4 linked regions of the Homo sapiens genome follow. The protein of the gene in region 1 interacts with the protein of each later gene in a pairwise test. Each region holds a gene or a part of one and is shown in the gene's direction. Other genes may lie near its edges. The genes, in order: SMYD1, KRT35, ZBTB44 and HMG20A.

Region 1 (7,563 bases):
CCTTCCCCACCAACAGTCTGGGAACTACTGTCAACTCTGTGTCCTTAATCCTGGCCAGAGATGCTAGATCCCCTGAGAAGCAGGGGACAGCCTGGTACAATGAAGACTCTCTGCCCACCCCGCACAGCCTCAAATATCTGTATGTGCTCTTCAGGTAGGCAAAAAGCCAGTTTATGATTGTCTGAGTCTGGAAATCCATTTTGTAAGTAATCGTAAAGTAGTTTTTGTAAAGTTTTAATATATGCTGAATTTTCCAGCAATGCAACTTCTTGTTAACCAAAGAAAGATCAAACTTTATTTTGTTTAGAACTCCCCTAAGAGTCGCTCACCATTTCAGAAAATTATGGTCACAGGCAACAATATGGTATTTGTGTCCTCAAAATCAATCTGCATTTTTGTTCTCACTATCATAGTGATTCCACTTAGAGGTACAAACATCTAGCCATTTTATCTCATCTTCTAATATAGTTGTACCCAAGCATATGCATAGTGAGCACATTTACACATTTAATTTACAATAAATAGATATTACTACAAATTAACTTTGATTTTCTTTCACCTTTGTTAGATTAGACTAGTCATTTTTCTTAGGTATAAGAACGAATAAATTATATTATGTAAGAATTTCACTTTAAAGTAACAAAAAGCATGTTACATAATATTTACTATAATGAGACTAATATAGTAAATATTTACTATATTTACTATTGCTGCTGTGACAAAATATGACAAATTTAGAGACTTTAAAGAACATAAATTTATTATCTTACAGTTCTGGTGGTCAGAAGCCAGAAATGGACTTTACATGGCTGAAATCAAGGTCCGCAGGGCTGTGTTCCCTCTGGAGGTTCTAGGGTAAGAATCTGTTCCCTGGCCTTTTCCAGTTTCTTGGCTCATGGCCGCTTCTTCCATCTTTAAAGTCAGCAACACAGCCCCTTCAATATCTCTCTGACTCTGACCCTCTTGGTTGCATTGTCGCATCTCCTCTGACCCTGGCCCTCCTGCCTTCCTCCTATAAGGATCCTCATGATTACATTGGTCCTACCAGGATAATCTAGGATAATCTTCTCATCTCAAGATCCTTAACTTGATCACATTCACAAAGTCCCTTTTGCCATATAAGGTAACATATTCACAGATCTAAGCATTAGAATCTGCACATCTTTGGGGCCTGTTATTCTGTCTACCACCCTTTAATAATATAATAACCATTGTTCTGATAAGGTTGAGGCCCACAGGTATAATTAAAGTCCTGGGCTTCCTCTCTCCATATGGTCTTGGGGCTGGTAAATTTCTTCCTTGTCCGTGGCTTGGGCTGAACCTGCTCCAAGAGTGCCTAGTCTAGGGAACAAGCTCATCTGAGCCAGGCTGAGCCCCTGGCCCCTGAGGGCAGACAAGTTATTGCAAGACCCTGAGTTGCCAGGCAATGTGGATACAGGGTATTCATTGGGAGTCAACCTGGATTGAAAAAAACCTTTTTTTTTTTTTTTTTTTGAGATGGAGTATCGCTCTGTCACCCAGGCTAGAGTGCAGTGGCATGATCTCGGCTCACTGCAACCTCCGCCTCCTGGGTTCAAGTGATTCTCCTGCCTCAGCCTCCTGAGTAGCTGGGACTACAGGCGTGTGCCACTACGCCCAGCTAATTTTTGTATTTTTAGTAGAGACGCGGTTTCACCATGTTAGGCAGGATGGTTTCAATCTCCTGGCCTCGTGATCTGCCTGCCTTGGCCTCTCAAAGTGCTGGGATTACAGGGAAAAAACCTTTTTAATATTTCCTCTCCTCTCCTCTCCTTTCCTGAAAACCCCTCCCCTCCCCTTCACTTCGCTTTCCTTCCCTTCCCTCCCCTCCCCTCCCTTCCCTTCCCTCCCTTCCCCTCCCTTCCCCTCCCCTTCCCTCTTTTTTCCTGAGACAAGAGCTTGCTCTGCTACTCCTCCCCTCCCCTCCCCTCCCCTCCCCTCCCCCCCTCCCCTCCCCTCCCCCCTCCCCTCCCCTCCCCCCCTCCCCTCCCCTCCCCCCCCCCCCTTCCCTCTTTTTTTTCTGAGACAAGATCTTGCTCTGTCACCCAGGCTGGAATGCAGTGGCATGATCATGGCTCCCTGCAACCTCTGCCTCATGAGCTCAAGTGGTCCTCCCACCTCAGCCTCCTGAGTAGATGAGACTACAGGCATGCGCCACCATGCCTGGTTTATTTTTTGTATTTTTGGTAGAGACAGGGTTTCACCATGTTGCCCAGGCTAGTCTCAAACCCCTGGGCTCAAGTGATTCACCCGCCTCGGCCTCCCAAAGTGCTGGGATTACAGGCATGAGCCACTGCGCCTGGCCTTCTTTCTCTTTTTTTTTTTTTTTTTTTTTTTGAGACGGAGTCTTGCTCTGTTGCCCAGGCTGGAGTGCAGTGGCGTGATCTTGGCTCACTGCAAGCTCTGCCTCCCCGGTTTACGCCATTCTCCTGCCTCAGCCTCCCAGTAGCTGGGACCACAGGCGCCGGCCACCACGCCCAGCTAATTTTTTGTATTTTTAGTAGAGACGGAGTTTCACCGTGTTAGCCAGGATGGTCTCGATCTCCTGACCTTGTGATCCACCTGCCTCGCCTCCCAAAGTGCTGGGATTACAGGCGTGAGCCACTGTGCCCGGCCTCTTTCTCTTTTTTTAACTCTCTGTTTTGTAGAATTGTTTTTCCCCTTGGGAGCATGCAGTGTTTACTTTTTGAGGCACCTAACTTTACATGTCTTAAGTTATTTTGCTCTTCAGTGTACATCAGAAGCTGCAGAGATATTCTCTTGCTGTCATGGCTATGTATTCTTACCTAAAAATCAGGATATATGATCAGACAATGAACTTTCAACATGCTTCCAAGAGTCGAAGGTGTTTTGGGAGATTCAATTGGTTGAAGACATGTTAAAATTTCTGGTACATCGTGATAGTTTAGGGAGGATAATGTGACAGAGTAAATAAAATAGAATAGCTATCACTTAATGAGTACTTTATGAAGTGCTAAGTGCTGTGTTATCCCCTTTTACATATTATCTAACTCTCACAATCCAGTGAGGTAGAAATTATCACCCTTGTTTCACAGGTTCCATCTCAAGTGGTAGTAGCAGGCTTAGAATTCAAACTCAGATTCATCTGACTCAGAAACCATACACTCAGAAAAATCCAGGAAATGCCCCTGCCCACTGCCCCCCACCCCCGCCGTCACCCCCACCCCCAACCCCCACCAGGAAATAGATGCATCCCAGGAACTAAAAATCTTACATGGAAGTCAAGCCAGAGCTCCAGATCTGCAAGTGTATTTCTTTTAAACCTCAGTAAAAGCTGCCTGATAGCCAAGAACAGTGGCATTTAGTTCAACGGGGATTTTAGATTCGTCTTTCCAGTGTCCTCACTCCTGAGTAAGAAGAAGGACAGAGCACGTTGGTATTTTCCTGGCAGCAGACACATGTTAAAGGAAATTTGATAGAAAGATAGAGATGGGGGTTGCTATTTTTATAGCCTGCCTTGTCTGTATCCAGCCTGCCTCCAGCATACCAGCATCACCAGCAGTGCTAAGAACAGGGAATTCCATGCTGTGGAGTAGGGGGTGCTGTAAGAGCCCCAGGTGATACTGGAGAGGAAAAATGCCCCCTTGGAGCCTAAATAGTACTGTTACGTATATGCCAAGGGCTCAGTTTAGCTTCTTCTTATTATTTATTTATTTATTTATTTATTTATTTATTAATTTTTTGTTGAGACGGGGTCCCACTCTGTCGCCCAGGCTGGAGTGCAATGGCGCGATCTCGGCTCACTGCAACCTCTGCCTCCCAGGTTCAAGCAATTCTCCTGCCTCAGCCTCCTCAGTAGCTGGGATTACAGGCGCCCGCCACCACGCCCAGCTAATTTTTGTATTTTTGGTAGAGACGGGGTTTCACCATGTTGGTCAGGCTGGTCTTGAACTCCTGACCTCAGATGATCCATGTGCCTCGGCCTCCCAAGGTGGGGATTACAGGCGTGAGCCACCGTGCCCAGCCCTCAGTTTAGCTTCTGCTGCTAAACAGTCCACCCTTGGGAGAGAGACTGAAAAGGGTGGGGCGAGGGCCCATCTCACTTGAGAAAGTGCAAGCCTGACAGCTGAAGGGTCCCAGAGCAGCAAATATCACCTTGTTTCTATGGGACCATTCCAGCTGTCTGCTTTTGATTGACAGAGGCATCTGGCTGCTAAAAATACCCTCCTGACCAAATGTTCCCTACTCCAACTAAAGCCGAACAGGATTGTTGCAGTTCAGAACTTAGCACATACAGATAGCTTCTGCTTGCAATGGAACCTCTCAAAACTTTTCAGGCCCTATGCCATATTAACCCATGGTCATTTTCTGTTCTGTCGGCTTTGCTGGGTGATGAATGAAACTCTTCCCAGTTCACTTGTTCTCTTGTCTGTCCCATCCCCACCTCCAGGAAAAGTAGCAGAGGGGGAGGTGAGGGCCCAGTAGCTGAGAGCGAGTAGGGAAGGGGAGGTGGCTTGTCCATTTATAGTCTTGCTCTTTGGGATGCTGAAGGTGCTGAAATAGCAATGACAAGAGACTTGGCTCAGTGTTAAATAACTGCCGCGCTGGCCTGACAGTCTCTGAGATGACAATAGGGAGAATGGAGAACGTGGAGGTCTTCACCGCTGAGGGCAAAGGAAGGGGTCTGAAGGCCACCAAGGAGTTCTGGGCTGCAGATATCATCTTTGCTGAGCGGGCTTATTCCGCAGTGGTTTTTGACAGGTATGAAATGTGGGGAGTTGCCTTCTCTCCTGTTAGTTTGGCTGGGGCCAAACTCTAAAATACTTTGCTCTCAAAAATCATCAGGGGAAGGGATAAAATTCATGTGCTCTTTTTTCAACAAAATGGCACTTCTGAGAGCTAATTTTTCTGGCACAAATTTTTCTGCAAGGGATCATTGCCAGTGTGATTTGCTGTGGCTCCTAGAAGGGTGGTGAAGGTGAGCAAAGGCTTCGGGGGCACTTTCTCCCAATACTGGCCAACTTGGCTGAGAGGGTGTGCTGGGAGTGGAAAGGTGGGTGTGGTGCTGTGGGAAACATTTTCCGACAGAAAGCTCTATATTTTTAGCTTTCTTTTTATTATAAATACATTACCAGATAAAGTAATTGCTGAGACTTTAAAAATTATGAACTATTTGTATATTTATAATTATGAATAACCCAGGAATCCACTTTCCCTTGAAAAATCTGAGTATCACCCAATCCCAGTCCCCTCTGTCTTTCCTCAGATATTACCCCTGCTATTATTTCAATGTATTTCCTTCTAGAATGTTCCTGTGCTATTACATACATATATCTGCACTTAACAAGATGGATGGCTGTAGTCTGTCTGGTTTTTTTTTTTTTTTTACAGAAATGGTGTCATACTTCAGATGTCATTTTAGAACTCACTCTTTTCCCTAAACAACACGTTTTTGATGTCTATCCTTGCAGGAACTTTAAATCTATAGATACTTCTTTTAAATTCCAAAGATCTATTTCCTTTATAGAGCTATCCATATAGATTCATATGCCATATGAATCATCAATCTTAATTTTAAATATTTCATCCTATAAATATATGACATTTTATTTATCCATTCCCCTATTGAGAGACAATTGGTAGTTTTTAATTTTTCATGAAATAAAATGAAAATCCTTGATCGTGTCTACCTGTACATATGTTCGATTGTTCTCCAGGGCACAGGACTAGAAGAGGAATTGCTGGGCCGTAGGATGTGATGTTTTCAGTTTTATAGGCTCTCCAAACAGGCTCTATTAAATTTACATTCCCGCTTCCTCACGACCTTGGCCACACTAGACTACCAAGCTTTTAAATTAGTAATAAATCTTCATTTTAAACAAACCTACATGGTGATTACATTAAATTGTCAATATTTTCTGAGATCAAGGTTGGGGTGACCTGCTTGACATCTATGTGGTTTGAGTCTGATAACCTAGGCTTTGTGGTTGGCTGGCTGCACTGACCACCCTGGGAAAGGGCACTGCTTCCCACAGATAACTTGATTAGTATTCACATTCTCTTGTCTTCCTGCCCACTAAGACCTTCAGGGAAAAGGGTGTGAACTGGGGCATATGGCTCACCACCACTTGAGGAAAATAAGGGGCTGAGGTGACTTTTTCAGGGGGAGCTTGTCTTATTTCATTAATCTGTGTGTGTGTATGTGTATGTGTCAGGGGAGGGGTGAGTACAGTTAGGGAGCCAGCTGGATTCAGAGTGAAAACAACCCAGAAACACAGGGACTGTCAACACTAATTCTGGCGCTGCCAGTGAGTTACTGCCTGGCCTTGTGAAGAACATCTCCATTTGCTGCTTCCAATTCCCCAAAGTCAATCTAGCCAATCAGTTCCATTTCAAGAAGGTTAAAGTTGAATGGGCTTTCATTCCATTATAAAAGCAAGGCATTGTCATTTTAGAAAATTTAGAAAGATAAGACATCACACAGCGATAACCACTCTTAACATGTTGGGTATCTATTTTCGGTTTGTTTTAAAACATAGGTTTCATTTGGCTGTAATATACTCATTATACAAGCTATTATGCTTTTTCATTTAATAATTTTGACATCTTCTGTGCTATTATACACTCTTCAGAGACATAGTACTTAAGGGCTACGTCTTCTTCTATTACCTGCTGATGACTGGCCATTTGGATTGTTTCCATGTTTTTGTTATTATAAATAATTTGTCATTCATTTGAAGTAACAACTATAAAAACACCTTCATATACATTGCAGATAAATGCTACATAAAATCATATATTATTTTTACAATGGTAATAAAAGTGGGATAATTGGTATAAATGACGTTTAAAATGATTGAAAAAAAATCTAAAAGAGATAGTTTTTTTTTCAAAAAATGCTTTACCCAAACTTGTCACTGCATAGATGAGGGAGCTGTGCTTTCTTTGGTTATACCAGAGACAGCCCAAAGAGGCATTAAAGGAAAGTTTTATGCATTTTAGGCTCCTGGTGAGGCTCAGCCACCATAGATGAGAAACTTGATTGCAGAGGTGGGACTGAGTCACCCACAAAAGTCACTGTACAAAACTGGCTTGTTTTAATCCATCTTACTGCAAGACAGGCTTTCCTACTCTTCCACACAAATGTGGAGAAAGATTTTATTTTTAGTTGAGCACTGCATTAAATGAAAATTAATTCTTTCAAACAGTGTGTATTATATATTCTAACATATATATTATATGTTATATTGTATATATTCTAACATATATTATATAAAGCATAGCAATAAATCAACACCAAACCAACTTAACTAGAATATTCCAATATGTTACATCTTCTCTATCCTGTTGCATGCCTGCTCCAAAGGTAATTATCCTAGGTTTTGTGTTGTATATTCTACTGCCTTTTAAATAATAGTTTTGGCCGGGTGTGGTGGCTCATGTCTGTATTCCCAGCACTTTGGGAGAACCAGGCGGGCGGATCACCTGAAGTCAGGAGTTCAGGACTAGCCTGGCCAACATGGTGAAACTCTGTCTCTACAAAAATACGAAAATTAGCCAGGCATGATGGCAGGTGCTTGTAAT
Region 2 (7,350 bases), on another chromosome or scaffold:
TGGATTCCACTGGCTGAGTTAGGCAGGTCTGCAGGTGGGGCCTAACTCTGCCAGCTCTGGACACCCCTCTGATCAGAGAAGCATGGCCTGGGAGAGGTCTGAGGGCCTCACGGTTGGTTCCTTTGCCCCTGCTCCAGTCTTCACTTGAGAAAACAGGCCCAGAGAGGGCAGTGACTTGTTCCAGGCCACAGAGCAGTGAGTGGCAGAGACCTGGCCATCACCTGGCTATTCTGACCCTGGCTCTGGAGCTCTTCTCAGTACAATTTCTCTCTCTCTCTCTCTCTGTCTCGCTCTCTGTCTCTGTCTCTCTTCCCTCCTCCCCCTCTCTTGTGCTCACTCTCCTCTGGGCTCTCCTCTGGGTCATGGCCAAGACATCCATGACCTGGCTCTGCCTCATGTCATCAGCTACTTGCTGCTAAATGGGACTCTTCAATCACTTGCTGAGCAAGCCAGAGGTGCAGCAAACTTATCAGACAACAGGAGAAGACGTGCATAGGTAGCATCAGAGCATCCTGCACTGAGCCCGACTCTGCCACTCTGTGCTATATGCCCGGTTATGTCATGAGACCTCTCTGGTCTCAGCAGGTTCATCTGTGAAATGGGGCTGCCAGGAGGTTCTGATGAGACAGTGTGTGTGTAGCTTCCAAAAAGTGGTAGCTATCAGTGTTGCTCTTACTACAAATGCAGAGTCCCTGGCTTCAGAGTGTTGAACAGGAACCCCCACTGCATGGGCCAAGTGCTTTGCTTTGTATCTGGCAGGATGCTATGGTGAGGGCTGTGCTGCCAGCAGTGTCCTTGGAGCTGGAGAGTGAACCCAAAGGCCTCAGCCTCAGAGGATGCACCTAGCTTTGGGCAGGGGGGGCAGTTGGCATGGTTCTCTCACCTGCCCTGCCCCTTCCCTCTCACTGCTCCACTCATGCTCTAGGGCCTAAGTCTGCACCCCTGACCCTGGCCTGAGGCCAGTGTGTGACCAGGCGTGCACAGAGAGCATTGTACCTCTGTGCGGAAACAGGCAGGGGTCCAGGAATGGAACGAGTCTCCGGGAAACAGCTGAGCTGCCTTGTCACTGTGGATGAACCACACAGGGCATGACCTGATAAGTAATCACATCATCAGCACCTTGTGTTGTACAGTGCTTTCCCTTTTTATGATCACTCTCCAGTTTACAGGGCACACTCATAGCCTCATCTGATGCACGCAATCAGCCCTGTGTGGCTGTGAGCTCTTTATTTATTCATACTTGCCTAGCTTTTAATTACATTGTCCAGAGCATATGTATCAGTTAGGAAACACCTCCTATCTCAACCTCACACACACCCTTAACTGAGTTGCAATTGAAATCACTGACCAACAAGCAAACCAGAATTCAACAGTGTTGTGGGGGTAGGTGGCGACTGGTCTAAAGTCACACAGCAGGCGGCTGACTTAGGAGCCTTCTTAGGTCTTTGGGCTCCTATTTCATTGATATGGAGAGAGATATAGAAAACATTCAATAACATTTCCGCAGAGTGAATATGATGTTTTATTTCAAGGCGGTATGGTTTTTCTGATCCTTTTTGTACTTTCCAGATATGCTATCTGACTGCCTTTCTCATTCACATATACACATCAATTAATCAACAAAGAGATAACAACGGAACATGGCATACACAGCTAATCCAATCTTAAGGCTCAGGCCTATCTAGGAAGGAGCAGGGGTGGCGGAAGCGGCTGGAACAAAGAGTGGATAACAGGCACAATTCCCGAGGAGCTCACGTCCAGCTGTGGAGACACCTCGCCCCCTCGCTCCCAGCAACTGCACTGGGATAGCAGGAGCGGGTGTGGGCAGGGTTTCAAGTTTTGGGGAAGAGGAGAAATCACTGAGGGCTGGGGTGACCAGGAAAGGCTTTGGGGCAGATTTGGATTTGATGGGCAGAAAAAGGAGGAAGGAGGGCAAAGGGCATTTTAGGGCCGTATTTAGTGTATCCGTGGCATGATCTGGGGACAGCCTGGACCACATCTGAGCAGAGTGCAAGGATCCTGTAAGGAAAGTTACTAGGAATGTGCTAAACAATGTTAGTTCTTGCTGATAAGGGGTTCTAGATAATCATGTCATTTAAGAAAAGCATGCTAAAAAGGAACAGAAATAGATCAGACCAATTTACAAAATACCTTAAAACAGCTTGAAAAATATTACATATATGTTTTATAAAGTTATCTAAAAATCTTATCAAGAATTTTTTAGTCACAACTTTAGCACTAAATTGGTTTATGAGATCCATCTCCCTTGGGCAGAATGGCTTTTGGCCCAGAAAACACTTTGTTCTTGGCCAAAGGGGCTGGTTAGTCTGGACAGGTGCTGCTCACCTACACAGAGATGCCGGATCCCCTTCCATCTCTGAGTCTCAGTTTCCTCATTTACAAAAGTAGGAATAGTAGGCTGGGTGTGGTGGCTCATGCCTGTAATCCCAGCACTTTGGGAGGCTGAGGCAGGCAGATCACGAGGTCAGGAGATCGAGACCATCCTGGCTAACACGGTGAAACCCCGTCTCTACTAAAAATACAAAAAAAAAAAAAAAAAGAAAAATTAGCTGGGTGTGGTGGCGGGCACCTATAGTCCCAGCTACTCAGGAGGCTGAGGCAGGAGAATGGCGTGAACGCTGGAGGTGGGGCTTGCAGTGAGCTGAGATCGCACCACTGCACTCCAGCCTGGGCAACAGAGTGAGACTCCATCTCAAAAAAAAAAAAAAAAGAAGTAGGAATAGTTAAGATTGACTGTGTTTTCCTTTCCCCGCTCCCTACTCTCTTTTGTTTCCTCCCATTCTTTCTTTCCTTTCTTAACACAATTCACCGTGGGAAAAATCACTTAATTAATTAATTAATTCATAGACATCTAGAAGCCCTGCACTGTGCTTAACACTACAGAGATTTAAAAAAAAAGTACAAGGTCAATCCTTGCCCCCATGCTTACAGTCTCCCTGGGAAAATAGGGCTGAAACACAAGACAATCAGAAGACGTCAGTTAATTGGAGGCCAAGAAATCTACCAATAGTCACTGCCTTGGGCATTCAGAGCTGGGAGGGCACAGCAGGGCTGGAGCAGGGGCCAGACTTCGGGGGAAGGCCTGGCCAGGACTGGGCCCTTAGAGGCAGTGGGGTGGGCCTGTGGTTTGGAGCTGCAAGGCCTGGGCTTTAGCCTCCCTGGGAAGCCTGTGTGGACCTTGGGTAAGCCATTTTCTACTCTGACCATTGTCTCCTTCTGTAGGAGTCAGCACCTTTCTATCCACGACTGTGTTGGAGGGTGTGTGTGAGGCCTTAAAGAAGATAGCATGCCTTGAACAGTTGTACAGATGCTTTTTCAGCTGTGATCTGGGACAGGCTCCTGAAACAGTCCAAGCCTCCTCTATTTAATGGGCTATTGGTGATGCCAATCTCATGAGTTTGTGTGAGGACTGAATAAGAGAATGCATAGAGACAGATCAGCGTGGGGGCTGGTGGGTACTAAATGCTCAGTGAATGATGGTTGCTACCATCAGCCGGGTTATTGATAGGGCTGTGTGAAAAGAGCTCCAATTCAGGCAGCCAGAAGGAAGGGCTTCTCCATTTCTCAACCAGGGCTGGGGAAGACATGCCCTCCTAGATGTCATCATGGGCAGGTGTCCAATTAACTGATCTCTAGGCATTGTGGCTAGAACTTAGGCTCTACAACCTGCACAGACTTCCTGGCAAGGGAAAGAGTAGGGAAGTGTCCATCAGGGCTCTGCAGTATCTAGGGTGATAAGCTGTCCCATTTTACCGAGGACTGAGGTTTCCCTGGCATATGGAACTTTCGGAACTAAAGCCAGAAAATTCCTGGGGAAACCAAGAAAATTGGTCACCTTAGCCATATTTTCTGGGCCAATTCAAGAGCCTTCTGTGTCTCCCTGGCTGCAAGACCCCTGCCTTCCTGCACCAACCAAGTTTACCCTTCCATCTTCTGGGAGCACCCCAGAGACCTCCTCTACTCCCTCAGGCCAATAAAAGAAGTCAAAGTTGGAGAAAGTCAAGACAGTGGCTGAACTCCCATGCTTGCTTAATGCGGAGGCTGAGGTCTGGGCTCAAATGACAGGTCCCTTTGAAGAACTGACAGGGACTTGGTCTTCCCAGTGATGTGGGGTGGTGGAGATGAGTCTTGACATAGTAATGGGGCTCCTATTTTATGAGACTGGTAAATTTTCACAGGAAACTAAATAACAGGTTAATGAGGGGTTTTAATAGAAAGTGGTGTTAACTTTAATGAGGAGAAAACACTTTGTAAAGGCCAACCAATGCCCACTGGGGCAGAGATATAAATCTGGGGTAAGGAGCTGCTTCTCTGCTTTGGGGTGTCTGGCCTCAGAGACCTATCAATTGCATCTGAGTTGCAGGGGCCATGGCTTCCAAATGCCTCAAGGCCGGCTTCTCTTCTGGGTCTCTCAAGAGCCCAGGAGGGGCCAGTGGGGGCTCCACTCGTGTGTCCGCAATGTACTCCAGCAGCTCTTGCAAGCTTCCAAGTCTCTCCCCTGTGGCCAGAAGTTTCTCTGCCTGCTCAGTGGGTCTGGGCAGAAGCAGCTACAGGGCCACCAGCTGCCTCCCTGCTCTCTGCCTCCCTGCTGGAGGCTTCGCTACCAGCTACAGTGGGGGTGGGGGCTGGTTTGGGGAGGGCATCCTCACTGGCAATGAGAAGGAGACCATGCAATCCCTGAACGACCGCCTGGCCGGCTACCTGGAGAAGGTGCGTCAGCTGGAGCAGGAGAACGCCAGCCTGGAGAGCCGCATCCGTGAGTGGTGTGAGCAGCAGGTCCCCTACATGTGCCCTGACTACCAGTCCTACTTCCGGACCATCGAGGAGCTCCAGAAGAAGGTAAGAGGTTCAGAGTGGCTTTGGATTCCCAGGAACTTTGTGTCACCAGCATTCATTGGTAGTTCTGTTCCCATAGGGCATGTTGGAAGTCACCAAGCATGTTCATCTCTGTGGCCTCATTTGCTCCTCCCAATAACCTTAAGAGGGAGGTATCATTAGCCCATTATACAGTTGAGAACACTGAGATTCAGGCTGGGTAAGCGACCCAGATGGCAGTTACTGGAGCCAGAGCTTGAACATCAGGTCTATGAATGAACTCTGTGACCTTTGGTGGTATTGCCCAATCCTCTGAGTCTTCTGAGTTTTCATTTCCTCTTTTATTTAAAGTCAGGGGATTGGGTTTGATGTATTTAGTGCAGTGCAGTTCAGGCTTCCCATAAGTAACTCAGGGAAGAAAATGCCTGTCAGAGAAGTTTCTTTCTTGCCAAGGGCCCATATCCACTTCTCGCCTGGCCCAAAGTTATAGCTGGCTCCTGTGAGGGACCATTTATGACCAGAGAATCCCGGGGTATGTTGTTGGCAATGAAATGCCCTGGGCCCCCAGTAGGCCTGGGAGACAGGGAGATTGGAAGAAGCCTCATTTCATCATGCCAGGCCTTTCCTGTTGCATTTTCATGCAGCTATCTAACCTGAGTAACAGGTCACAGATACACTGCACTGGAAGAAACCCTGGACTTTCCATAGTTGATCCCTAGAGCCTGCCCATAACACTCCAATGCACATGGAGTAGCAGAGGTCTAGGATGGGTGACTTCCTCCTTCCAGAGTCAGCCCTTGTCAGCTTTAGGGAGCTCCAACAAGTGGAATGTCCTTTCTTGCAATGAAATAACTTCTTCATATCTCCAGACTCTATGCAGCAAGGCTGAGAATGCCAGGCTGGTGGTGGAGATTGACAATGCCAAATTGGCTGCAGATGACTTCAGGACCAAGTGAGTTGTCCTGCTTGTCATGTGGTTGGGGGCTGCTAGAACTGGACACAGGTGATGCCTGAGCTCAGGGTTTTGGCTGTACTCTGTCATTGGGGCATAAAAGCAGGACTCACAGCACCTGGACAGTCTGAGGGCAGGCCTGACTTAGATGCAAAAAGGAAATGCAGACTCAGGTGCCCTGTTCTATGCCTGCAGGTATGAGACGGAGGTGTCCCTGCGGCAGCTGGTGGAGTCAGACATCAACGGCCTGCGCAGGATCCTGGATGACCTGACCCTGTGCAAGTCTGACCTGGAGGCCCAGGTGGAGTCCCTGAAGGAGGAGCTGCTCTGCCTGAAGAAGAACCATGAGGAGGTGAGCATGGGGGAAAAGGTGAACACGGCACAGCAGGTGAGCATGGGGGAGGAGGTGAACATGGGGAGGAGGTGAGCATTGGGGATGAGGTGAGCATAGGGGGAGGTGAACATGAGGGAGCAGGTGTGCATAGGGAAGAGGAGGTGAGCATGGGGAGCAGGTGAGCATAGAGAGCAGGTGAGCATGCAGAGGAGGTGAGCATGGGGAGGAGGTGGGCATGGGGAGCAGATGAGCATGGGGAGGAGGTGAGCATTAGGAGGGGTGAGCATGGGGAGGAGGTGAACATGAGGAGGAGGTGAACCTTGGAGGCAGCCCTCTGGGAATTAGTACTCATCCTGGTCTGTGCTATAGGAAGTGAACTCACTGCGCTGCCAACTTGGTGACCGCCTCAATGTTGAGGTGGACGCTGCCCCACCTGTTGACCTGAACCGAGTTCTGGAGGAGATGAGGTGCCAGTATGAAACCCTGGTGGAGAATAACCGCCGGGATGCTGAAGACTGGTTGGACACCCAGGTAGGTACCTGGAAACAGTCAGTGCAACAGGGGTATGTGGTGGCTCACATGGAAGTGACCCTGGGGCTCTGAATCAAGAAATCTAACTTTGAGTCCCATCTCTGTTTTGACCTTGCTGACAAGGTCAAAACAGACCCACTTCAATTGACCTTGCTGACAAGGTCAAAACAGACCCACTTGGGCAGGTTGCTGTCCTCTGAGCAACAATGCCCTCCAGTATAAAATAAATGAGTGGGACTGGGGAATCGGGAATGTCTTTCTTGGCTCATGATTCTAACCGGCCTCTGTAGCTCTCTGAAGCCAAGTCCCTGGTGTGGCTGACCAGGTTCTGTGTGTGTATGTTTCAGAGTGAGGAGCTGAACCAGCAGGTGGTGTCCAGCTCAGAGCAGTTGCAGTCCTGCCAGGCAGAGATCATCGAGCTGAGACGCACGGTCAACGCCCTGGAGATTGAGCTGCAGGCTCAGCACAGCATGGTGAGCCCCAAGGCAGGGTGGAGCTGCCTCTGGACCAAGCCGAGGAGCACACAAGCTCCCCAGCTTCCATGCTTTGACCACACAGGCGGACTCCAGGGGTCCATGTTCTTGAGCACCAGGGGTTCTCTATGCAGAAAAGAGGGAATGAGGGACCAGCTCCAGTCACAAATCCCCCAGTGGTAAAGGACAAGAGACCTGTAGCAACTGACATGTCCAGGCAGTAG
Region 3 (7,034 bases), on another chromosome or scaffold:
CCATGCCACCACACCCGCCTAATTTTTATGTGTTTTTTTGTAGAGACAGGGTTTTGCCATGTTGGCCAGGCTGGTCTTGGACTCCTGAGCTCAAGCAATCCGCCTGCCTTGGCCTCCCAAAGTGCTGGGATTACAGACGTGAGCCACCACACCTGGCAACCTTTTTAAATTCATCTTGAAATCTTTTTTTTTTTCTTTCCACTTCCTTTTTTTCTTTTTCCCATCTTTCTTTTCCTCTATACATTTACCTGCATAAAACATTAACAGGGATGATTATGTAATGGATTGTTCAGTGTTTACACTGGCATTGCCTGCTGCATGCTCACATTTAGAAACAGGAATGATAATACGCCTACTGATAGAGATATGATGACAATCAACTAACTATTAAATGTGAAGCATTTCAAATACTGTCTGGCACATAGAAGACACTCTATAATTGTCATTATTTACAAACTGTTGCAGCCCTGCAGCTCATTAAAACGCTGGTTCACAGGCCGGGCATGGTGGCTCACACCTGTAATCCCAGCACTTTGGGAGGCCTAGGCAGGCCTATCACCTGAGGTCAGGAGTTCAAGACCAGCCTGGCCAACATGGTGAAACCCCATCTCTACAAAAATACAAAACTTAGCCAGGCATGAGGGCGGGTGCCTGTAATCCCAGCTACTCGGGAGGCTGAGGCAGGAGAATTGCTTGAACCCGGGAGGCAGAGGTTGCAGTGAGCCAAGACCACCCCGCTGCACTCCAGCCTGGGCAACAGAGCAAGACTCTGTCTCAAAAACAAAACAAAACAAAAAAAAACATTGGTTCACAGACTTCACTGATTGGACAGTTTGGAAGGCAGATAAGGAGAATATATTTCTATACAGTCCCTACCTTGAAGTTTCTCTGTCACTACCATCTTTCAGCTTTTTAATTTAGTACAGTGGCCACATGAAAATGATCTAAATCACATTTTAAACCACTAAAATATCAATTAATGCTTTATTTTATGTATTTTTTAGGACATTTCTGATTTATTTGCATCCTTGAAGAGCATCTGTAGAAGAGGAAGTAAAAGATGGGTGTGAAAACATTTACTCATAGCTCCTCTTCCCACAGCCAGGAAATGCTTGGAAAGCTAAATATGCTGCGAAATGATGGACATTTTTGTGATATCACTATTCGTGTCCAGGACAAAATCTTCCGGGCACATAAGGTGGTACTAGCAGCTTGCAGTGATTTCTTTCGCACCAAACTTGTAGGCCAAGCCGAGGATGAGAACAAGAATGTGTTGGATCTGCATCATGTTACAGTGACTGGCTTTATACCTCTTTTAGAATATGCTTACACAGCCACTCTATCAATTAACACAGAAAATATTATTGATGTTCTAGCAGCAGCCAGCTATATGCAAATGTTCAGTGTTGCCAGCACCTGCTCAGAGTTCATGAAATCAAGCATTTTATGGAATACACCCAACAGCCAACCTGAAAAGGGTCTAGATGCTGGACAAGAAAATAATTCTAACTGCAATTTTACTTCTCGAGATGGGAGCATTTCTCCCGTGTCCTCAGAGTGCAGTGTGGTAGAAAGAACCATTCCTGTCTGCCGAGAATCCCGGAGAAAGCGCAAAAGCTACATTGTTATGTCTCCTGAAAGTCCTGTAAAGTGTGGCACACAAACAAGCTCACCCCAGGTATTGAATTCTTCAGCTTCCTACTCAGAAAATAGAAACCAACCAGTTGACTCTTCCTTAGCTTTTCCTTGGACTTTTCCTTTTGGAATTGATCGAAGGATTCAGCCTGAGAAAGTTAAGCAAGCAGAAAATACCCGGACTTTAGAATTACCTGGCCCATCTGAGACCGGTAGAAGAATGGCTGATTATGTGACTTGTGAGAGCACAAAAACTACCTTGCCTTTAGGTACCGAAGAAGATGTCCGGGTCAAAGTAGAAAGATTAAGTGATGAGGAGGTCCATGAGGAAGTGTCCCAGCCTGTCAGTGCATCTCAGAGTTCGCTGAGTGATCAGCAGACAGTTCCAGGAAGTGAACAAGTCCAAGAGGACCTTCTGATTAGTCCACAGTCTTCCTCTATAGGTATAATGCCTTCTGTGTTTTTCTTGGTGCTATAAAGTCAATTCAAACATTTTTAAGTTCCTGTTAGATAAAAAGTTTTGTGCTCGGTCATATAGGAAATATAAAGAAGAGTAAAACATGGTAACTGGATTTGCTTGAGATGCTATTAGCACTATCGTTTATTTTTTACAAGTTGCACATTGGGGAAGATAAAAATAATTGAATGGTATCTGCTGGGACAAAGGCAGATACACATACACAAAAAAGCAGTTAAATCCAGTTTGTGTTTTATTCTTCATTAAAATATGTATTGAAAACTTACCATGTGCCAAGCAAACATTTATGATACATAAAGAAAAACACATAGTCCCTGCAATGACAATTAGGTTAATCATCTAATTGGGGAAGCAGATATGAAAGTAAATGATTACAGTGAACTATCAAAAGTGCTCATCTGGAGGTGTGAACAAAGTAGTATGGTTGCAACAAAGGAAAGAGCAAGTTACACTATATGTTTGAGTGGGTCTTATGCAATAAGTAAGAGTTTACCCAAGTGTGGGAATGTCATTTCTGTGAAAACATAAAAACACAGAACATATATGCAAACACAGAGGTATGGAAGAGCATTGTGTGTTTGGTAAACAGTGAATTCAGTGCAAAATGATGTAAGTAAGTACAGATGCCTGAAACTGTAGGGAATAGTGGGAGATCAGACAAAAGGAGTGGTTGAGCGCAGGCTGTAAAGAGCCTCGAATCCTAGTTTCAGTAGGGGTTGCATTTAAGTGCAGGTGATGGAATCCCTTCTGCAGTAACTTAACTGTAGCAGAGTTTTATTTATTTTTTCTTTATTATTTATTTATTTATCTTTTTAGATTGAAAATAAAATGATTTATAGTTGTTTTCTCTGGCAGTATTTTTTTCTTTTTTTTAATTCAAATTCTGGGGTACATGTGCAGAACGTTCAGTTTTGTTACATAGGTATACACATGCCATGGTGGTTTGCTGCACCCATCAACCCTTCATCTGCGTTACGTATTTATCCTAATGCTATCTCTCCCCTAGCCCCCCATCCCCCAACAGGCCCCACTGTGTGATGTCCCCCTCCCTGTGTACATGGGTTCTCATTGTTTAACTCCCACTTATTAGTAAGAACATGTGGTGTTTGGTTTTCTGTTCTTGTGATAGTTTGCGGAGAATGATGGTTTCCAGCTTCATCCATGTCCCTGCAAAGGACATGAACTCATTCTTTTTTATGGCTGCATAGTATTTCATGGTGTACATGTGCCACATTTTCTTTATCCAATCTATTATTGACAGGGATTTGGGTTGGTTCCAAGTCTTTGCTATTGTGAATAGTGCCGCAGTAAACATATGTGCGCATGTGTCTTTATAGTAGAAAGATTTATAATCCTTTGGGTGTATACCCAGTAATGGGATGGCTGGGTCGAATGGTATTTCTGTTTCTAGATTCATGAGGAATCGCCACACTGTCTTCCACAATGGTTGAACTAGTTTACAGTCCCACCAACAGTGTAAAAGCATTTCCTATTTCTCCACATCCTCAACAGCATCTGTTGTTTCCAGACTTTTTAATGATCACCATTCTAACTGGTGTGAGATGGTATCTCATTAAATTTCCATATGAAATTTAAAGGAGTTTTTTCCAATTCCGTGAAGAAAGTCAATGGTAACTTGATGGGGATAGCACTGAATCTATAAATTACTTTGGGCAATATGGCCATTTTCACGATATTGATTCTTCCTATCCATGAGCATGGAATGTCTTCCCATTTATTTGTGTCCTCTCTTATTTTCTTGAGCAGTGGTTTGTAGTTCTTGAAGAGGTCTTTCACATCCCTTGTAAGTTATATTCCTAGGTATTTTATTCTCTTTGTAGTAATTGTGAATGGGAGTTCACTCGTGATTTGGCTCTCTGTTACTGGTGCACAGGAATGCTTGTGATTTTTTATCACAAAGTGTTCAGGAATAAAAGTCCAGGGCTGGTACAGTGAATCTGCAATATAATCAGTGGCCTAGGCAACTTGTATATTTATAAACTGCCATCTTTACTTTGTTGGTTTCATCCATAAGATGCTCATTTCATCTTCAGCTTTGTATTCTAGAAAGGGGCAATGCTTTGTATCAAGAAAGCACCTATGTTCTCAGAAATCCCTAAAAAACTTCTGCTAGTCTGTGTCACATAGTCTTTCCTAGCTGCAAGGGAATCTGGGAAGATAATGTATATTAGTTGGGTACCTAAATGCCTTGAACAAAATTAGAGCAAAATGGATATTGAGTATGCAACTAGCAGTGTCTGCCACAAGTAGGCCAAGTAAGCTTGGATTTTATCTTAGTGGTAGGTAGTAAGGAGTCTACATTAAAGGGATAAAAACAAAAACATGCAGATATTTTAGGAAAACTGTTATTGACATGCAGTGAGTTTGGTTTTACAGAGACAGTCTCAGAGACCAATTGCAGTGCACTTATCTTGGTGTGAATGAAGACTTAAAACCATGTGAAAGAAAATAGATATTACAAGACTTTGTAAAGAAAGACTTAGTACCTGATGATACTGAATATGTATATTGAAAGAACAGGAGAGGTTAAAGTACTCTGATGACTAGGAAATAATGGTAACACTTTATTATATTCCATTGATTCTAAGTCACAATTTTTCATATTTTGTTATTTCTGAATCCAGATATGTCTTACAGTTGGCAGTCTTCTACAGTTGCTTTTTTCTTCCTTAGTGCTATAGAGAATAATGGCAATCATATGAATCAATAGCATTTTAGCATCTATTAAATGTAGTTAGTGCCGTATGAAAATCAGTGGAAGGTGGTGGGAATCCAGTTTTGAGAGTAAATTATCAAGGTCACTTCTGTGTAAATTGTGCTTGGATGATGATCAAGCAGTGTCATTTCAAAAGCAGTAGAAAAGATAAGTGAGATTCCCAACTTGGGACTTTTCTACTAGTAGTGGCAAATTCAATCTCAATAGGAAAAACAGAAGAGCCAAAACCAAGGGGATACCTTGGGGAATACCTATATTCAGGTTTGGGAAGGGATAGAAGAAAAGCCACTAGTGAATAATAAAGATTTGTCCAAAATATTGGAGAACCGGGAAGACCATATTAACTTTGTTAGTTTCTTGTGCTTTTACCCTCTGTGTGAGTTTCCCTGGGCTGCTGCAACAAAGTACCGCAAACTGAATGGTTTAAAAAAAATTTATTCTCTCATAGTCAGAGGCCAGAAATCTGAACGACAGGTGTTAGTTCCCTTTGAAGGATCTTTCTCTCTTTGAAGATTGTAGGGAAGAATCCTTCCTTGTCTCTTCCAGCCTGTGGCAGCTGCCCACAATCCTTGGTGTTCTTTGGCTTGTAGCTCCAGTATATGATATTGTGCTTTAGTATATGCGTTCGTCTTCACATGACCTTCCCTGTCTCTCTGTTTTGCCACTGGCTTCAAATCTCTCTCTCCCTAAAAGGACACCAGTCATTGGATTCAGGTCCCACCCTAATCCAGCATGACCTCATCTTAACTTGATTACATCTGCTAAGACCCTATTTCCAAATAAGGTCACATACATTGGTAGCAAGGATTAAGATGTACTTTTTCTTTTTTTTTTTTTTTTTTTTTAAGATCTGGGATGCATGTGCTGAACATGCAAGTTGTGTTTTTGGGTATTTTATTTTCTTTGTAGCAATTATGAATGGAAGTTCACTCATGATTTGGCTCTCTGCTTGTCTATTACTGGTGTATAGGAACGCTTGTGATTTTTGCACATTGATTTTGTATCCCGAGACTTTGCTGAAGTTGTTTATCAGCTTGAGTTTTGGGGCAGAGACAGTGGGGTTTTCTAAATATACAATTATGTCATCTGCAAACAGAGACAATTTGACCTTCTCTCTTCTTATTTGAATACCCTTGACTTCCTCTCTTCCTATTTGAATACTCTTTCTTTCTCTTGCCTGATTGCTCTGGCCAGAACTTCCAGTACTGTGTTGAATAGGGGTGGTGAGAGAGAGCATCCTTGTCTTGTGCCGGTTTTCAAAGGGAATGCTTTCTGCTTTTACTCATTCGGTATGATACTGTCTATGGATTTGTCATAAATAGCTCTTAATATTTTGAGATATGTTCCATCAATACCTAGTTTATTCAGAGTTTTTAGCATGAAGGGGTGTTGAATTTTTATTTTTAATTTTTATTTATTTATTTATTTTTGAGACGGAGTCTCACTCTGTCACCAGGCTGGAGTGCAGTGGTGTGATCTCAGCTCATTCAAGCAATTCTTCTGCCTCAGCCTCCTGAGTAGCTGGGACTACAGACGCATGCCACCACACCCAGCTAATTTTTGTATTTTTAGTAGAGATGGGATTTCACCATGTTGGCCAGGATGGTCTCGATCTCTTGACCTCGTGATCCGCCTGCCTCGGCGTCCCAAAATGCTGGGATTACAGGCGTGAGCCACCACGCCCAGCCAGGGTGTTGAATTTTATTGAAGGCCTTTTCTGCGTCTATTGAGATAATCGTGGTTTTTGTCATTGGTTCTGTTTTACGTGATGGATTACGTTTATTGATCTGCGTGTGTTGAACCAGCCTTGCGTTCCAGGGATGAAGCCAACTCGATCCTGGTGGATAAGCTTTTTGATATTCTGCTGGATTCAGTTTGTCAGTATTTTATTGAGGACTTTCACATCAATGTTCATCAGGTATATTGGCCTGGTATTTTCTTTTTTTGTGTTGTGCCTCTGCCAGGTTTTGGAATCAGGATGTTGCTGACCTCATAAAATGAGTTAGGGAGGAGTCCCTCTTTTTCTGTTGTTAGGAATGGTACCAGCTTCTCTTCGTACCTTTGGTAGAATTCAGCTGTGAATCTGTCTGGTGAATCTGTCTGGTGCTGGGCTTTTTTTGGTTGGTAGGCTATTTCAGGAGAGTTTATAGCATGAAGGGGTGTTTTTTTTTTTTTTTTTTTTTT
Region 4 (7,034 bases), on another chromosome or scaffold:
CTGAATGGTTTTTCACCTTACTGCTTTGCTGTCTCTATTTCATAGCCTTCACAGGTATTCAAATGAGAATACCCTTTACGTGACTTTTCATTATTTAAGCAAAAGTTTAGAGTGTCTACTATATGCCAGTCACTGTTCTCAGGACTTTGAATACAGTAAATACGGCCAAATATTCATATTCTACTGTAGTTTACTCTCTAATTTACAAATTAAAACTAGAATTTTGCTCCCTTGGTATTCCTAAATAAGATCTATGTTATGATCGTTGTTCAGACTGGGTAAAGAAGCAGCCCTAAACTTGATCTCTCCTGGTCTTAATCTCTAAGCCATTCTAAACCCAGATTTGAATGTTTCAGCCTAATTTTTCTCCAGACCATAGAAGCCCCTGTGTTAAATATGCAGTCCCTTTCATTGATACATGTATCATTTTCCTACCATTCTAGCTTCTTTTGTATTGTGAAAACAAATGAGAGTGAACAGTGGGGAAAATATGGGATCAGATAGGCCCAAATTCAGCACTGGTCTCTGCATTTTACTGGCTGAGCTTACTAGCTTGGTAACCATGAGCAATTTATTTGACCTCCCTAAGCCTCAGTTTTCCTAAATCCAAATGGGGTTGTTTGGTGGAATCAGAATGTTGTATGTAAATCTCCTGGTCCAATGCCTGGTGCCAGAAGCTTCATTAATGCAATTATCTTACCCCCAATCTTGCTTCTGCTACTCTGGCTATTGTGATTTGCCCACATGTCTGTTTTAAGCTTTACATTTTCCCCACAGTATGGGATGCAGTGGTAGACTGACTGAGCTTCAGCCTTGTCCCCCTATCAGCATGCTCACACAGTTGTCAAGATTTAATTTTTTTTCCTTGTGGGAAGGAGAAATCACTAATTTCCATGATTAGAAGATATACAAAATAGAAAAGTTTCAAGAAAAGGAATCTTAATCTTGGCACAAATCACTAAGGTAATTTGAATTGTTACAGGCAGACTTTCAACTCATTCTCCTAAACTTATTTAAATACGAAAACCAAAAATGACCTTTCACACTATGATCATACCTCACATTATTCATCTACACATCCAAACGGGATCGCCTCTGGGGGGAAAAAAATCTGTACTGCACCCAGCATTAATATTTTTTTTTGCTCATGCTATTTTCTGCCTGAAACACTCTTTTTTCCTAGGAATCCCCATCTATCAAAATGCCACTTTCTTTGAGGTCGTTTCTCAAGTACCACATTTAAGAAATATTTTCTGATATCCATCCTCTTCTACACTCTCCCAAACTGTACACGTTCTGTCCATTAACTCTCCAGAGCATTATACCTTTCTTACAGCACTTACTGTCCAGTGCTCCTCTTGTTTGTTTTTATTGCGTTGTTGTAGGTAGAGTTTATGCCTTCCCTAAAAGGCTGCAGACTAGGTCTTATTCCACTCTGTGCTGTCATACCTGGCACAAGACCATTCACATCATAGGTATTCAGTAAATATTTGTGGACGTGAGCTGGCTCTTGGAGTATGACAAAACTGATCAATAACTTTTGTCCACAATTATGCCCAGCATCAGCACAATGGCTATCATACATTAGACACTCAAATATCTATAAAATGAAAGAGTGAATAGTAAGTCATCATTCTCTCATTTGGGAGCTTCTTAGGGTGTCAGATAAGCATATATTAAGCACCTCCTATATAACTGGAGCTGTAAGAACTGATCTCTGCTCCTCAATTTAATTGGAAAAAAGTAAATTGTTACTAATATCTGCAGACTTTGAAGATGGTAGGTGTTTGAGTAGGGATGGCATGGAGAGCTTAATATAGAATTGTTTGCATTGTGAGAGATACCCTCTGCTACCTGAACTCAGAAACCAAATAGATTTTTATATCAAATATTTGGACACTTAACTTGTATTTCCACTCCTAGGTATATATCCAAGAGAACTTAAAACATGTTCACACAAAAACTTGCACACAAATATTTGTAGCAGCCTTATTTGTAAAAGGCAAACTCAAATGTCCATTAATTATTGGATGACTAAACAAAATGCGATATAGCCATACAATGGAATATTATTCAGCAACAAAGAGAAACAAAGTAGCAATACCTGCTGTAACATGGATAAAACTTGAAAATATTAAAGTGAAAGAAGTCACATACAAAAGGCAACCTATTATGTGATTCCATTTATTTAAGATGTCTAGATTAGGCAAAACTAATAGAGACAGAAAGTACATTAGTGGATGGGAATGGGAGTGACTGCTAGTATGGAGTTTCCTTTGGAAGTGATGAAAATGTGCCAGAATTAGATAGTGGTGGTGGTTGCATAACCTTATATACTAAAATATCTTGTATACTAATATACAGTTGACACCTGAACAATGAGGGGGTTCGGGGTGCTAACCCCTGTGTTGTCAAAAATCCATGTATAACTTCTGACTCCCCAAAAAGTTAACTACGTAAATAGCTTACTGCTGACTGGAAGCCTTACCAATAGCATAAATAGTTGATTAACACATGTTTTATATGTTACATGTACTATGTACTGTATTCTTACAATAAGCTAGAGAAAGAAAATGTTACTAAGAAAATGATAAGGAAGAAAAAATATGTTTACTATTTATTATTCGTTAAGTGGAAGTGGATTATCATAAAGGTATTCATCCTTGTCATCTTCACATTGAGTAGGCTGAGAAGGAGGAAGAGGAAAGGTTGGTCTTACTGTCTCAAGTGGTGGAGGCAGAAGAAAATCAGCATATAAGTAGACTCATGCAGTTCAACCCATGTTGTTCAAGGGTCAACTGTACAAAAAAAATCCTGAAATATACACTAAAGGGGTCAGTTTTATGGTATGTGAATTATATCTAAAAGAGAGAGATACTTAGACTTGAAGAATAGAGAATTTTGAATGGAGCCAGAAGAAAGAAGCAAGAGGTGTGAAAGCAAGGAAATGATCATTCTTTCTCAGATCCTAGAGAGAAATATAAGCAGCTAGGTACAGGGCTAAAGGTATGTTAAGGATCAGGTGAGGATGGATATGAGGATAGCTTCTGGGTTTTTGTCTTAATGTAGCAGGGATTTTGGTAAATACTTAGACTACAGAGGTATTAACAAAGGAGAAAAACATCTTATGACCTTGAAGGAAGCTTCAGATTTCTTCTTGATTAGGTCAAGGATGTGGTATATGGTCTTTTTGGTTTCTGTGTTACGGTCAGCTGAGTTTAAAGAGTGGGAGTATTCTAAGGTAAGGAGTCTAGTAGCAATCAAAACAAAGTTACTGGGGAAGATGGGAGAATAGAGACTAGACAAAGATGTTAGAATTTGATTCTAAAGCTCTCCTCAGGTAATAAAAATAGATAAATCTTAATGAGAAGGAACCAAGGGCAGTGATTTGGAGAAGTCAGTACAAATAAAGGTATTCATTTGAAGAAATATTTGAGTGCCTTTTATGTGCCAGGCACTATTAAATAAAACTATAGCTATTTTCCTTATTTGACTTTTTTTCTGAAGATAAAATCTTATGAGTGTGATTAATGGTTCTACAAGCATGGGTAGTTCTAGATATGATACCTACATTTCCCTAAAAGATTGTACTGATTTTTAATGATAACAGCAATGTATAAGGATGTTGTTTTCACCACGATTTTACCAGCAAAAATATTTGGCTAGTTGAACACACATAAAATTATTGTTCTCTTTGCTTATAATCTGATAAGTGTTTCCATACCTTGGAACCTGGATCTGTTGGAACATGAAGGAATTCAGGACCCTTATACATGTTACCCCATATGGCTTCTTTAAAGGATATGGATTTTTGAGGATCCTAGAAATCAAAATTCTCTAATTTTATTCAGCTCAAAAAAAAATTTTATTCAGTGCTGCTGTCCTTATTTTCTGAATAATATTCAGATTCAGACCACACTGAGCCATAATTCCAATTCCCACTTGACTAACATTTATGTAGTATTGTGCTAGGCACTACATGTTATCTTAATTCTAATAATTTGGCATTTTTCCATATGAGAAAAATAAGATTTAGAAAGATTAGATTACTTGCCCAAAATCACTTAACCAGTAAGTGGTAGAGACAGGATTTGAATGCAGATCCTCTAAGGCCAGTGTTTATTCTCATACTGCATGATCCCTCAGTATCACTACTAAAATTTACTGGAGGATAATGGAAAGTGGAAAATCTGAACTGGAACTTGGGACAATCAAGCACTGACTTACCTGTGTTCATAATGAAGCATTTAGCAGAGATGTTGTTTGTTGTTTTGTTTTGTTTTTACTGGGGAGGCTATAGTACATAAACAGAGCGAAAGATCTTGGTATGGTTAAACCCACATTTTCAAGGCCTTCTGTGTTCTCCCTGATGATCAGGTACCTACTACCCCAAAATCTGTGATGGTAACAAAGAAGGAGGAAGGCAGCTGTAGAAAAGCAACGGCCTTTGGGTATACCCAGTAAGATTTATGTGATTGTAGAAAGAGCAGGCAAATGGCTTGGCCTTCAGAGAATCCCACAAAGTAAAGTAACCTTTTAAAATAGTAACTTAAAGTCTGACATAAGATTCTTAACAGGATATTCATCACAAGATAAGATATTCAAAGCATAGCGTGTAAGACATTCAAAGCATATCAGCAAAAAAGGAGAGATTCCTTCATTTTTATTGAAGTATGGTATACTCACAAAACAAATTTAATATCAGGAATATAAAACAAGAGATACGATGTTCCAATTCTGGCTTTAGTCGGATATTATAAAATTTAATCCCAATTTATAGATAAGGCAATTCAAGGCTCGAGATTACACACCAAATAAGTGGACTCTAGGCTGGGTGTGGTGGCTTCTGTAATCCCAACACTTTGGGAAGCCAAGGCAGAAGGATCGCCTTAGCTCAGGAGTTTGGGACCGGCTTGGGTAACATAGTGAGATGCTGTCTCTACAAAAAAATAAAAAATAGCCAGACATGGTGGTATATACACATGTGGTCATAGCTACTCAGGAGGCTGAGGCCAGAGGATCGCATAAGCCCAGGAGTTCAAGGCTGTGAGCTGTTATCGAGCCACTGCACTCCAACCTGGGCTACAGAGCAAGACTCTGTCTCAAAAAAAAAAAAAAAGGAGGGGGGAGCCTCTAGAACATAGGCCTTTAATCTGTGTGGTTGTTTTGCAATTTATATGTATAATTTTTAAATAATATGTTGGCCGGGCACAGTGGTTTGTATCTATAATCTCAACACTTTGGGAGGCTGAGACAGGAGGATTGCTTGAGGCCAGGAGTTTGAGACTAACACAGGCAACATAGCAAGACCCCATCTCTACTAAACAAAATAATAATAATTTAATATGGTGGGTTTTTTTGTTTTTTTTGTTTTTTTGAGACGGAGTCTTGCTCTGTCTCCCAGGCTGGAGTGCAGTGGCGCTAGTGAGCTCATGCAATTCTCCTGCCTCAGCCTCCCAAGTAGCTGGGATTACTAGCGCTTGCCTGCTTCAAAAGAAATGATTTCCAGCACCCCATTTTTTCTTTTCCAGCCTCAAAATTCATATCTCCTTTTTTTCCCCCATGTCCACATGTCCTTCATTCCTATACTTCATAGCTTTAATTCCTGTTCTCTTGATACAAACCTTCATGTTTGTTGCTTGATGGCATCATAATTATCATAACTTTTTGGCTTAATAACAGTAGCAGTTATATCAACAAATAATAAAATGTTCATACTTTTGAGCCAATAATTCCACATATAGAACTTCATTCTGAGAAAATACTTTAAATAAGAAAAATAGTTAAAGGCACAAAATGTTAATAGCACTGATATCTATACTGTCTAAAACTTGAAACCTTCTAAATATTCAACAATATAATAATGCCTAAGCAAATTATTGCCTATCTACTCAGTGGGCTGTAAGACATTCATTTTTCACAATAGCGTCTTTAAGAATACATTGAAAGATGTTGTAAGAATGTTTTTGCAAAAATGAAAAGGAGAAACATCAGAAGAAAAAGTAGAAAAACTAATGTGATTGGTGTCTATTTCTGAAGCATTTATATTTTCTATATAATAATAATTTACATTTACTGACCACTTACTTGTGTCAGGAACAATACTCAAGCAACATTATAGAAGCAACAATTTGTAGTTATTGAAAACTGGTGTTCTAGAATCAAATCTGAGCTTCATCACTTACTAATATGTGGTCTTGAAAAGGAAATGGAGGATAACTATGTCTACATTAAATTATTAAATCTATATAAAGTATTTGGCACATACAAAACCTACAATAAGAATGTTTTTGTTATCAGACATTTTATAAATATGTCTCATTTAATCTTCACATCCTCACAGTAACCTCATTAGATAGTGTTAACGTTCATTTTACATGAAAGAAAATTGAAACTTCAAATGTTTAAATACTCTAGGTTAAATAACTTGCCGAATCACTTAACTAATAAGCAGTAGAGTTTTTATTCAGAGCCCAAGCTATGGTTTCCACTTATGACTCTGAGAGATGAGGTTGCTGCAGACTAATGCTTTTGCTAAGAACAGGAAAGATGAGAATTAAAAAGAAAAGTGAAGGCATCAGAGACCTGCTGAGGCATCCAGGACTTAAGAAACCACAACCATAGAACCAAAGGAGCTTCAGAGAAGTGGGCTGATGTTCCATGCTTCTCTTTTTTCCTAGGAATTTGCTAATTCTTAGAGCATGACAAGATGCTGTGAAACTTAGCAGAGGGTTTCTTCTAAAAGCAGAGAAGCTGTTAGTTTTATGGGGCGGAGCAGACAAAACTTGGATTTTAGAGATCTCCAGGTAGCTAGTTCTTGGGTCAAGATCCCTAGAGAAGGACAGTACCCAGAAACTTTTTTAAAACTTGTTTTCCCCTCACAGTGTTTGCTAGGCAGAGTCTAGAACTGTAAGAAAGTTAATTTGTATTGCTTTAAGCCAATAGCTTTGGATAACTTGTGACAGCAACAATATGAAACTATTACAGAGACATGAGGAAATGATGAAGAAGTCTAACATACATATGACTGGAGG

The links.
Region 2: the proteins of SMYD1 (region 1) and KRT35 interact in binary tests that used the Homo sapiens proteins (3 or more experiments, as listed by UniProt).
Region 3: the proteins of SMYD1 (region 1) and ZBTB44 interact in binary tests that used the Homo sapiens proteins (3 or more experiments, as listed by UniProt).
Region 4: the proteins of SMYD1 (region 1) and HMG20A interact in binary tests that used the Homo sapiens proteins (3 or more experiments, as listed by UniProt).

Annotation. Positions count from the first base shown.
Region 1 is NC_000002.12:88,063,262-88,070,824, forward strand, and holds the start of SMYD1 (histone-lysine N-methyltransferase SMYD1), read left to right. Parts: upstream 1-4,563; 5' UTR 4,564-4,603; coding exon 4,604-4,740; intron 4,741-7,563. UniProt on the Homo sapiens protein: Methylates histone H3 at 'Lys-4' (H3K4me), seems able to perform both mono-, di-, and trimethylation. Acts as a transcriptional repressor. Essential for cardiomyocyte differentiation and cardiac morphogenesis.
Region 2 is NC_000017.11:41,478,137-41,485,486, reverse strand, and holds the start of KRT35 (keratin, type I cuticular Ha5), read left to right. Parts: upstream 1-4,335; 5' UTR 4,336-4,389; coding exon 4,390-4,860; intron 4,861-5,705; coding exon 5,706-5,788; intron 5,789-5,983; coding exon 5,984-6,140; intron 6,141-6,491; coding exon 6,492-6,653; intron 6,654-7,000; coding exon 7,001-7,126; intron 7,127-7,350.
Region 3 is NC_000011.10:130,255,900-130,262,933, reverse strand, and holds part of ZBTB44 (zinc finger and BTB domain-containing protein 44), read left to right. Parts: intron 1-1,004; 5' UTR 1,005-1,060; coding exon 1,061-2,078; intron 2,079-7,034. UniProt on the Homo sapiens protein: May be involved in transcriptional regulation.
Region 4 is NC_000015.10:77,423,859-77,430,892, forward strand, and holds part of HMG20A (high mobility group protein 20A), read left to right. Parts: intron 1-7,034. UniProt on the Homo sapiens protein: Plays a role in neuronal differentiation as chromatin-associated protein. Acts as inhibitor of HMG20B. Overcomes the repressive effects of the neuronal silencer REST and induces the activation of neuronal-specific genes.